2 separate regions of the Homo sapiens genome follow, and region 1 is linked to region 2. Evidence: fine-mapped QTL for protein levels in blood plasma. A gene starts in region 2. The other region holds a variant in brackets. All regions are shown on one strand. Distances are between the middles of the regions.

Evidence for each region. PIP is the posterior inclusion probability: the model's chance that the variant is causal. Protein levels are from antibody-based Olink assays in UK Biobank. Linkage for the fine-mapping came from a reference panel and not from the study's own genotypes, which makes the PIPs less certain.
Region 1: its variant is fine-mapped to the plasma level of the PODXL protein (UK Biobank, PIP 0.98).

What each region holds. Positions count from the first base shown.
Region 1 is chr7:131,504,502-131,508,777 of GRCh38, forward strand. PODXL (podocalyxin like) reads right to left here. Exons shown (of 9, transcript NM_001018111.3): 6 at 2,078-2,225; 7 at 1,759-1,820; 8 at 1,367-1,534; 9 at 1-7. Among named protein-coding and RNA genes, the nearest start is that of PODXL, 50 kb to the right of the region's middle. RefSeq lists an enhancer at 1,158-2,072 and a silencer at 3,613-3,672. The variant G/A (reference allele first, on the strand shown) is at 3,168.
Region 2 is chr7:131,553,791-131,559,302 of GRCh38, forward strand. PODXL (podocalyxin like) reads right to left here and starts at 2,838. Exons shown (of 9, transcript NM_001018111.3): 1 at 2,470-2,838. The coding sequence starts at 2,569. RefSeq lists silencers at 2,459-2,968, 3,049-3,108, 3,139-3,258 and an enhancer at 3,226-3,773.

The DNA of each region.
Region 1 (4,276 bases), 50 kb before region 2:
GCCGCTGCTAGAGTGGGGAAGGTGACCGGTGAGAAGGGGGTTTCAGAGGGCTCTGAGCTTAATACAGCGCATGTACGTACCCCTCCCACTCAGGAGCCCCACTGTAGCTAAAGCAGGCCCTCATTGCTCGCCTGTGGGGCTGGCTGCTCCTGGTGGTCATTCTGGCTCTCAGCCTGCCCGGAACTAGTTGGGAACAAAGACTTGCCCCTCACCCTCACCCTGGTGGCAGAACCTGTGAAGTTAGTGGAGATGGACTTTGTTCTCCAGAGTCCTCTAAGCTCTCTCCTCCCCTTCATCCCTTCCCCCAAAACCTCCTCTCCAGGCACCTACCTCACCTATCATAATGAATGGGAAAAACACTATTAAAAAATGACCTCTCTCGGGCTGGGTGACTGAGCCCTCAAGCCTGGGCAGGATGGGTACGGTGTCTCTAGAATCATCCCTGCGGCAGACAGCAGCCATCTGGCAGAGGCGCTTTCTGTCCCTCTCAAACACAACCTTGAGTGTATGCTAGAATCACCTGGGGAGCTTTTAACAACTACACTGATGGACTCAGAGATTGTTTGAATTGGTGTGGGAGGCAGTCAGGCAAGGGAATTTTTCTAAAGTTCCCCACGGTGTGCAGGCAGGAGTGAGAACCACAGGGTCTGGGTGGCACCATCATGGCGAGAATTCTAGTAAGGTAGGCAGAAGAATTTTTGGTTAGACAGAACACCTAGGCCTGCTTCTATCAATGAATCCTCAGACCAGCTCTGCAAGGAGGTTATCCCTGCTGTGCAGATGAGGAACCTGATGCCCAAAGAGCTCATCTGACTGACTTCCTCAAGGTCAGGGCCAGGACTAACCAAGTCTCCCTGACTCCAGTCCAGGCGTGGTGACTCACACCTGTAATCCCAGCACTTTGGGAGGCTGAGGCAGGCGGATTGCTTGAGGTCAGGAGTTCGAGACTAGCCTGGCCAACATGGCGAAACCCCATCTCTAGTAAAAATACAAAAATTAGGCGGGCGTGGTGGTGGGCACCTGTAATCCCAGCTACTGGGGAGGCTGAGGCACAAGAATCACTTGAGGTTGCAGTGGGTGACACCAGCCTGGGTGACAGAGCAAGACCCTGTCTGAAAAAAATAATAATAATAAAATAAAAAATAAATAAGTCTTCCCGACTCCAAAGCCCACGCTCTGTCCTCTGCCACGCTGCCTCTGTAATGCTCTGTGGACTGAGGCGGCTGCCTATCAGGGGTGGCCTCTGCCTGTTAGAAAGGGTCCAGGGCCTGCTCCCTTTCCTCTTCTGCAACTCGGGAATCACGAGGGGAGGGTTCCTCTGGTGACCTGGGCTGCTTCCCCTGTGTGGCTGCAAACAGCTGCTTACCTGGTCCTTCCTCTGGGAGAGGCGCTGGTGGCAGCAGCCATAGAGGGCCGCCACGAGGAGCAGGAATGATGCCATGCAGACGATGGTGATGATGAGGGGCATGCTGAAGCGGTCCTCGGCCTCCTCCGGTGGCCCCTGGTCCCCTAGCTTCATGTCACTGACCCCTGCCTGCATGGGAAGTGGCAGAGAACAGGCTGGGGGCATCCTCTCTCCCTCAGCCCCCGGCTTCACTGTAGAGCCCCTCCGCTTGCAGTCTGCTAGGGTCCGTGCCGCCGCCCTCTTCTACATGCAGGCACATGACGGGGTTCCTCCCCACAGAGAGAGGGGAGTAACCAGACCTCCCACAAGGGGCTTCGGAGCCACTCTGTCCCCACACTTGGGGGGCCGCTTACCTCCTTTAGTTCATCCCATTTGTCCTTCAGCCGCTCGTACACATCCTTGGCAGGGAGCTTAGCTGTGGGAGAGGGAGACGATGCCCAATGGCCCAGCCCAGAGCGAGGCAGTGGGGGACGGGGACTGCGCCCCAAGAGAGGGACGCACCGTATCTCAGTCTCCTGAGTGTCTCTCGGGTGACCTGGGAGGGGGTGTGGCTTGACAGTTCTTAGGGAACTGAAGGGGCACCACTGTGACCCACCCTCCAATGTGGCTTCTGCATGCCCCCCATTCCCACCCATGCAGGCCCCAGCCCAGGCCCCCTTGCCCTCCACTCACTGTGAATAGTGATTTCTTTGACGACCACGGTCTGACTTCCTGGAACAGATGCCAGCCGTATGCCGCACTTATCTTGGGCCGGGTTGAAGGTGGCTTTGACTGCTCGGCATATCAGTGAGATCAATTTCTCATCCGAAGCGCCCCCTGCCTATGGTGGGGAGAGCGCAGGTGACTCCGCGGGGAGCGTGACAGCAGCCTAGGCCTGTGGGGCTGCCCTCCCAGCTAAGGTCGGGACAGTGCTGTTGCTGTGCTAGAACCTGCCTCCCTCTCTAGCCCCAGCTGGTGCTCCACGCAGGCCTGCCAGGAATCAAGGGTTGCATGCTGTTCTCCTGGGCCAGTTCCTGCCTCCTCTGTCTCGTTCCCATCAGCCCGTTCTCCGCACTGTGTTTATCTGGTCTACGCTTGCACCTTTCATTCCTTTCACCCTAGTGCCTCTTTTTTCCCTCCAAGCTGTTTGCGGATTGGGGGTTGTTTTCATCTCCCTCCCTAGAACGGGCTAGAGAGGGGGCACTGCACAGCAACCCTACCCCACAGCCCGCAGGGAGACTCCAATTCCCCCTAAACTCCCATTCACCAGCCTTTCATGCCCAGTTCGGAGAAATCAGGTGGGGAGGCTGCAGCTCTCAGCAGAAGGGTCTCTACCCCCAAAGCTGAAATACATGTGCCCTTGCCCTAGGCAGAGCCTCTGGCTCTGAAGCCACGGACAGGCTGACAGGGAAGGGGCTCCACTGAGTAGGGGAACAGGTGGGATCTTGAAGCTACCCCTAGGATATCTTGGAGGGGGTCTTATTTAGCTCTAAGAACAAAGATTGTGGCTGACGTGGCTTTAGAGCTGAGGATGAGGGGAGAAGTGTGGGCAGCATGTATCCAGTCCTGCCATGCCATCTAGGGGCACCCCTCCCTGGGGCTTCTCTGACCTGATTCTGGAATAAATGACTAAGACAAAGAAAAGGACTCTAGGGATAGCTTAGCACAGAACCCATACAAACCACCCCTAAGGTTTCTACCAGAATTTCCTTAGGCTTAGTAATTCCCCACCCTGACATCAGGAAGGGATCCAGGGTTTTCCATCTTCCTTTTCTAGCAAAGG[G/A]AAAAAAAAAAAAAGTGTCTCACAACAATCACACAGCCTACCAAGCTACATCCAAAAAGAGGGTCTGAGGAAGGGCTGGGCGGGCACCTGACTGTCCCCAGAGCCCATATCATGCAATGCCTGCCTTGTCCAATAAGCCCAGCCCTAGGAGAGCACTGCTCCCTTTTAAAACTCTGGTCTAGATGTAGGCTTTTGTAAAGTTCACTTGGAAAATGCCGGCATAATGGACACCCAAAAGAAAACAACTGCAGAAAATTCAGGCAGCATTAAAGTGTTGTAAGCCCAAATTCTCCATCCTATCTATAGACACCGTGTTCAGGTCTGTTCTAGTTCTAGTTCCTAGGGGGTGGCTGCAAAAAACCGGCACTGACCGGGAGAGGGCAGCAGTGAGCCAGCCATCTCCAGCACCCGCCGCGCTCGGCAGTTATTTACTGAGTGTGCACAGCGCACACTCCCCAGACCAAAGCCTTTGGACCCATGGAGACCGGTGGCCTGAAGGCTGCTCACACACTGCTACCTCCCTCACACAGGTGTGCTCACACGCACGCTCACCACCCAGACTGGAGAAATGCTGGCAGTGGCTCCTGCATTCCTGGGCCCTTTTCTCTCCCACCCATCCCATCAGCTCCTCAGGTTAGAGGGAGAATCTCCCAGCACTGTTCGTCCATCAAGGCTCTCAGATAGTCCACAGACCAGGAAATGTGAAGCCACAGACGATTAAAGCAGACAGACTACACCTCTCATTTTCTCTTGCTTTTCTTTTCTTTCTGTAAAAACAGGGTCTTCCTATGTTTCCCAGGCTGGTCTTGAACTTCTGGCCTCAAGCAAACTTCCTGCCTCAGCTTCTCAAAGTGTTGGGATTACAGGTGTAAGCCACCACACCTGGCCTCACCTCTCATTTTCAATTGAGACATCTGAAACCCAAAGAGATCAACTCACCAAAGTCACTCCCAGAGCTAGGGGCAAACAGGAACTAGGATCAGGGTCCCTCAACTCAGCATACTGGAAATAGTCACACAGTGAAAGCCGAGGAAACCGGGGGGTGGGAGGGGGGGGTCCAGTCCTGTGGGTGTGTCCTGACTTAGAGAAGTCTTAAACCTTGGTCTGTT
Region 2 (5,512 bases):
TCTTATCATGGTGGAACTAGAGGTCCCTTTGGTTCTTTTATTCTATCTCACAAATAACGAAACGGAGGCACGGAGATGTGACTTACCATTGTGGTTCTGCCAGATGGTTATCAAACCAAAAAGCACTGAAAGGGGGTCTGATGAATTGTCCAACCCTTAAGGTGAATGCTTTCTTTGCTGTAGGCTGCATAATCTGCCCATATATTGGAAGGTAAGCTGGGGGAGAGGGGCAGGGATGGACCTGTCTGGGGATAATTCCTTTGTTGCAGAGACTCGAGCTATAAATCTTTCTTGCTTTGAATCAAATCACAGGATTCCAGCAGATGGGGGGCAGTGTTTATGCTATTCCCGATGACAGCAGCCCAGGCGACCACACCTTCAGAAGGACAGGGATGGAGCTGGCCTTACTGAGTCCCTAGAGGGTGGTGTAGAATGCACCATAGCTACTGAACAGACCAATCTTGCCGCAACATGCCCCCCACAAGCCTTTTCTGGCCTCAATACATGCAAATCATCATCACCATCATGATCATCATCCTCTCCCCATCCCCCACTTAGCACTTTGCACTTTTCTAAGTGCTTCCCAACAGTGCTGCATACTATAATGCATACAGTGCTCAGATAGGCCAAGTTACTTGCTGGTTAGAGCAGGCACTGGGTTATGGTCATTTTTGTTTGCCACATACCAAACTTCTGCCATGTGCCAAACCCTGTGTTAGGCCAGAAGTGGTGCTTCATGGAAGAGACATGGTTTCTGGCAGTGCCCAGGTGCCAGGAAAAACAGTGCCATCCTTGAAGCCAGCAGTGAGCTGGAGTCAGAGCTTTGCCCACTGGTGACTTATGAACATTTCCTTTTAGGGCAGACAGGGAGGGTCTTGTCCCACAGTGCCTCCCACTCCTCAAAGGAAGGGTGGCTCAGCTTCCTTAAGCTCAGAAGCACTAGGGACTAACCCCTCTTTCCTGACACAGCCCAACGCCCTTCTGGGTGGTTCTAAGAGGCTTCCCAACAAAAGGTTCGTATGAAGGCCCACCCTGAAGTCCAGCTGTCCCCAGAGTAGGGCTAAGGAGCCACCATACTCTCGTGTCATCTCAACCCTGCATGTCGTGTGGCTCTTCAGTGATTGCCACTCTGAAAGCTGTTCTGACTGTTCCTCACACTGCAGCCCCTCTTCCAGGGACACACATTCTTCCCCCCGCCGGGACCTTCCCTTTCTAGTCAGGCTGGTGGAGTCTCCCGCCGGCCACAGGAGGATGCCCACGCCTGCCTGCTCCCTGAGTGCCAGCGCCTGCCCACTACCAAAGGTTTCCTGCGGTGCAGAGGAGAGACTGTACTGCCCTTCCATCTCCCCTGGCCCCTTAGAGTCCAGTCCCAAACTGCCGGCACCTGCTCACAGCAGAATCCCTACCCTGTCTGTGCTGTCCCCGCAGTCCTCCTGGCCCTAGGGTGATCACACCACCTCAGCTCTTCCTGCAGACATGTGCTCAGGTGGGCAAAAGAGAATGAGAAATGCACCTCTCCCGTGGGGCTGAGCTGACTCTGGCTGTTCCCTAGGGGCTTAAGAACACCTGTTCTGGTTGAGTTTGCAGCCATCGCCTGTCCCCCAAAAGGGAAAGAGTAACATTTCACCTTGAAAAGAAACAGGGAGGGGATGTTTCTGAGGTGCAGGTGTTTCATGAGAGACAGGTACATTTTCTAAGGTGTGTCTAAAATGCAGCCCAATCCTATTCTACGAGAGAGAAGTTCCCGTTTGAACAAGTTCCCGTTTGAACAAGAGGATTCGAGGGGGGTCTCACCATCGTAGCCACGCACTAAGAAGCGATTGTTTTAGGGACACGGAGGTAGGACCCCCACTCAGCCAGGTGACTCTGGGACTGTGGAAGGTCCACTTACGACTCTGTACCTGCCCCAGCACGGGCTCAAGGAGTTGAGCCTGCACACATTACTTAGAAAAAACCTCTGCAAACGGGTAAGTACATCGCCCGCGTGGGCCGTGGCTGGAGGCTTGTCACCTGCTTCAGGGACTTCCTCGGGAGCCTCTCGCCTGCCTCTTTGCCTGGAATTAACGAATACACACTACAGCCCCTCATTCCCTCCAACACGAAGGAAAGGTGTAATCAGATCCCGAGAGTCCCGCAGAAGCGTGGAGCCTCGCGGTGCGGTCTCCCTTTTCTTTCCCATGCAAACCCACTTAGCACCGGCGCGCCCCTGTTTGCCCGGGCAGAATCCACCGCCCACTCCTCCCGAGTGGAGAGTGGAGACGAATCTACGCCCAGGCCCTGCACCTGCCGCGCTGCGGAGTTTGGAGGGGGCGTGGATGGTGCAAGGTCAGGGCTCCGTGTGTGACCCCGGCGGTGATAGGGCTGCTCGGGGTCGGACCACGCGGCGCGCCGGGCTTCCCTGCAGCTCGGCCGGGCAGGGGGCACATGGGCACGGTGGGAGTCCCGGCGGAACCCAGGCCGGCCACTCACCATTCTGGGAGGGCGACGGCGACGGCGACGGCGACGACGGCAGCAGCGGCGGCGTTGACAACAGTAGCAGCAGCGCCGAGAGCGCCAGCGCGCAGCGCATCGTGTCGTCGCCTCTGGGCCGGGAGCAGGTGGCTGCGGTGCCGGCGGAGGATCCGCGCGTCCGGGCGGTAGGAGCGTGGGCGCCGCCCGGGGAGGCCTGTGGGTGGCTCCGGAGGCCAGGCTGTGGCCCGGGGCTCCCGAGTCGCGCTGCGGCGGCTCTTCCTCCCTGCCGCTGCAGCAGAGCCGGGCTGGGGCGCAGAGCCAGTGGCAGAGGAGCGGCGGCGGCGGCGGCTGCGTCCTGGGCGGCGTCTGCGCGGCTGCGGCCCCACTGGCGGCTGCGGCTACTCCTGGCCCGTCCCGTCAGCGCCGGCCCCCGCCCCCGCCCCCGCCCCTCCCCCTCCCCCAGGAGCCCGCCAGCGGCGGCGGCCGGGCCGGGCGGGGCCGGGGCCGGGGCTGGGCGGGCGCTGGGCCGTGAACAATGAGCAGAGGAGGAAACTCCGCCCTGGAGCGCGACGGGCGGGAGGGCCGGCGGCCTCCGCGCCTTGGGGGGCTGTGTGTGCGCGGGGGCCAGGGCGGGGGGCTCCTGCGGTGCAGCCGGGCCCCGTCCACAGGTGTCCCGAACAGGTGTGTCCCCCCGAGTGCTTCTAAGTGGGCCCGGCGGGATCCCCCAGCACACCGCCGGGGCCCTCGCACTACGAGCAAATCCGGAGCGGGCGGACCCCCAGCCTTGCGTGGTAACTGATAACCATTCACGGCCTCCCGGGCTGCTGCGCGTTCTGCAGCGACCCCGGAGAAGCTCATCTCCCACCTGCCAAGTGCAATTCACCTGCCTGTGGGGCCCCCATCCCGCACGGCTTCTGAGCGGGGTCTCTCTGCAGCTAGGTGTGCAGCGGGCAAGCTGGACTAATTCACTCCTTCACCTCTCCAAGGGTAGGTTCCTTACCTGTGAAATGGAGATGATGGTTAAAAAACAACAGCAACAACAATTTCAGGGATGAATGTGTGCCAGGCTTTACATATATTAATTCTTTTACTCTTCATGACAACCATATTTTTAGCCTCATTTTGCAGACAGGGCAATTGAGTCAAAAAGAGGTTAAGAAACTTCCTGAGGCCACATAACGGGTAAGTGGCAAACCTGCCTCTGAGAGAAGTTTGGAGAAATACCGTGCACCGTGCCTGGAATATAGTAATTGCTCTGCAAGGAGTGGTTATTACTCTTATTCCTGCTATATAAAGAACAGCTATAAAGATTAGGGCTTTTGGGTCAAAACAGGCTGGGGCTCAAAACCTAACTGTGCCAATCTATTAATTGTAAAACCCTAGGCAAGCTATTCTCAGTACCTCATTTCTTTTTATCTGTAAAATAGGGATAATAACACCTACCTCAGGGGGTTGTTGGGAAACTTAAATGTGATCTTACAAGATAATACTTAGCCTAGGGCCAGGAACACAAAAGTCTCAATGAATGAAGTAGTTCGCCCTCCAAGTGAGGATCAGAGATATTTGCACACTGGGGGTGGGAGTGGGTGTTGGAGAATTCCGTAAACTGAGTTTATCCGGTGAAAGAACAAAGAAGTTCCTTTCCCCTCCCCCGCTCCCCTCCTTTTTTCCACCCCCAAAGCTGCCTGGGAGACGCAGACCCCAGGCCCGCCTGAAGAGGAGGCACATCGGCGGAGCCGGGAAGCGGAGGGGGCGAGGGGTGATTAACCTTGGAACCCGGGTACGGCGTAAATTTGGCTCACGTGACTCCGGGGTTGCTAATCTGGAGTCTATCTGCCAGATGGGGCTGGGTGGAGGGGTTTTCTCCAGGATCTAGCCGCGTCCCGGGCACAGGGGACTCCGTGAGCCCCTCAAGTCGGCTGCAAGCAGGCGATGCCTGCAGGGCACTGCGTCCCTGGAGCCGCGAAGGAAGCGCTGGAGCCCTGGCTGGGGTTCCGTGGCAGCCGGCCTCAAGCTTGGGAAGGGCTGACGGGGTTGTTTTCATCAGGAAGTTTCTGCAGGATCGTTCTGGCCCCGTTTTCCACACCGCATATGGGAAAGACAGAGGGTGTTCCCTATGAATACTCTGGGATATTTGTGTGTGTGACTATCTTTGATGTTTTTTTAGTACTGTTCCCCTGATATCATGTCAACAAAAGGCTTGTTTCTCTTCTGAAACCAAGCAATATATATATATATTTTTTTTTACACTGGGATTTTAAAAAATGTGTATCGCACTCTGATTTAAACAGTGTTTTTGCACTCAATCATTCAATTTATCTAAAAACTCAGAAGCAATCATGTTAACTTTATAAAGAGAGAGCGTATATTTTGAAGCTTAGGGCATTTTAAATTCACATGATTTGGGATTGGTGCCATTACAAGATCATGCAAAATTAAAATGAGAGCAGACATCTGGGCTTAGAGAAGACATAGAAAAGTTACAATTGTGCTGGACTCTCCCCAGTATCCAACAGCCCCCCTCAACTTATGCACAACGTGGCTTTCTGGAATGAGGCTGGCTGGGTTTTGAGGTCACTGGTGGCCACTGAGATGAGCTACCCCCAGGTAACTGGCCTGTGCCTTTGGCCCCATTTAGCATTGTGCTCTAACTAGCAAGCTCGCCAGCCCAGAACACCTGAGCTTATATTTGAAACCCAAAGCACTTTATGGGTGCTGTTTTTGAAGCTTTTCATCAGGAAGTTTCTGCAGGATCATTCCTTCTGGGATTTGTTGCATTTTGGTTATTTGTATACATGCGTTAGCTCTCCTAGCAGACATTCAGCTTCTTTAACATGGCGTCTTTCTTATTCATCCTTTACTTACTCAGACCACCAAGAACAGCACATCACTTTTTTTTTTTTTTTTTTTTTTTTGAGACAGAGTCTTGCTCCTGTTGCCCAGGCTGCCTCCGCCTCCCAGGTTCAAGCAATTCTCCTGCCTCAGCCTCCTAAGTAGCTAGGATTACAGGCATCTGCCACCACACCCGGCTAATTTTGTATTTTTAGTAGAGACGGGGTTT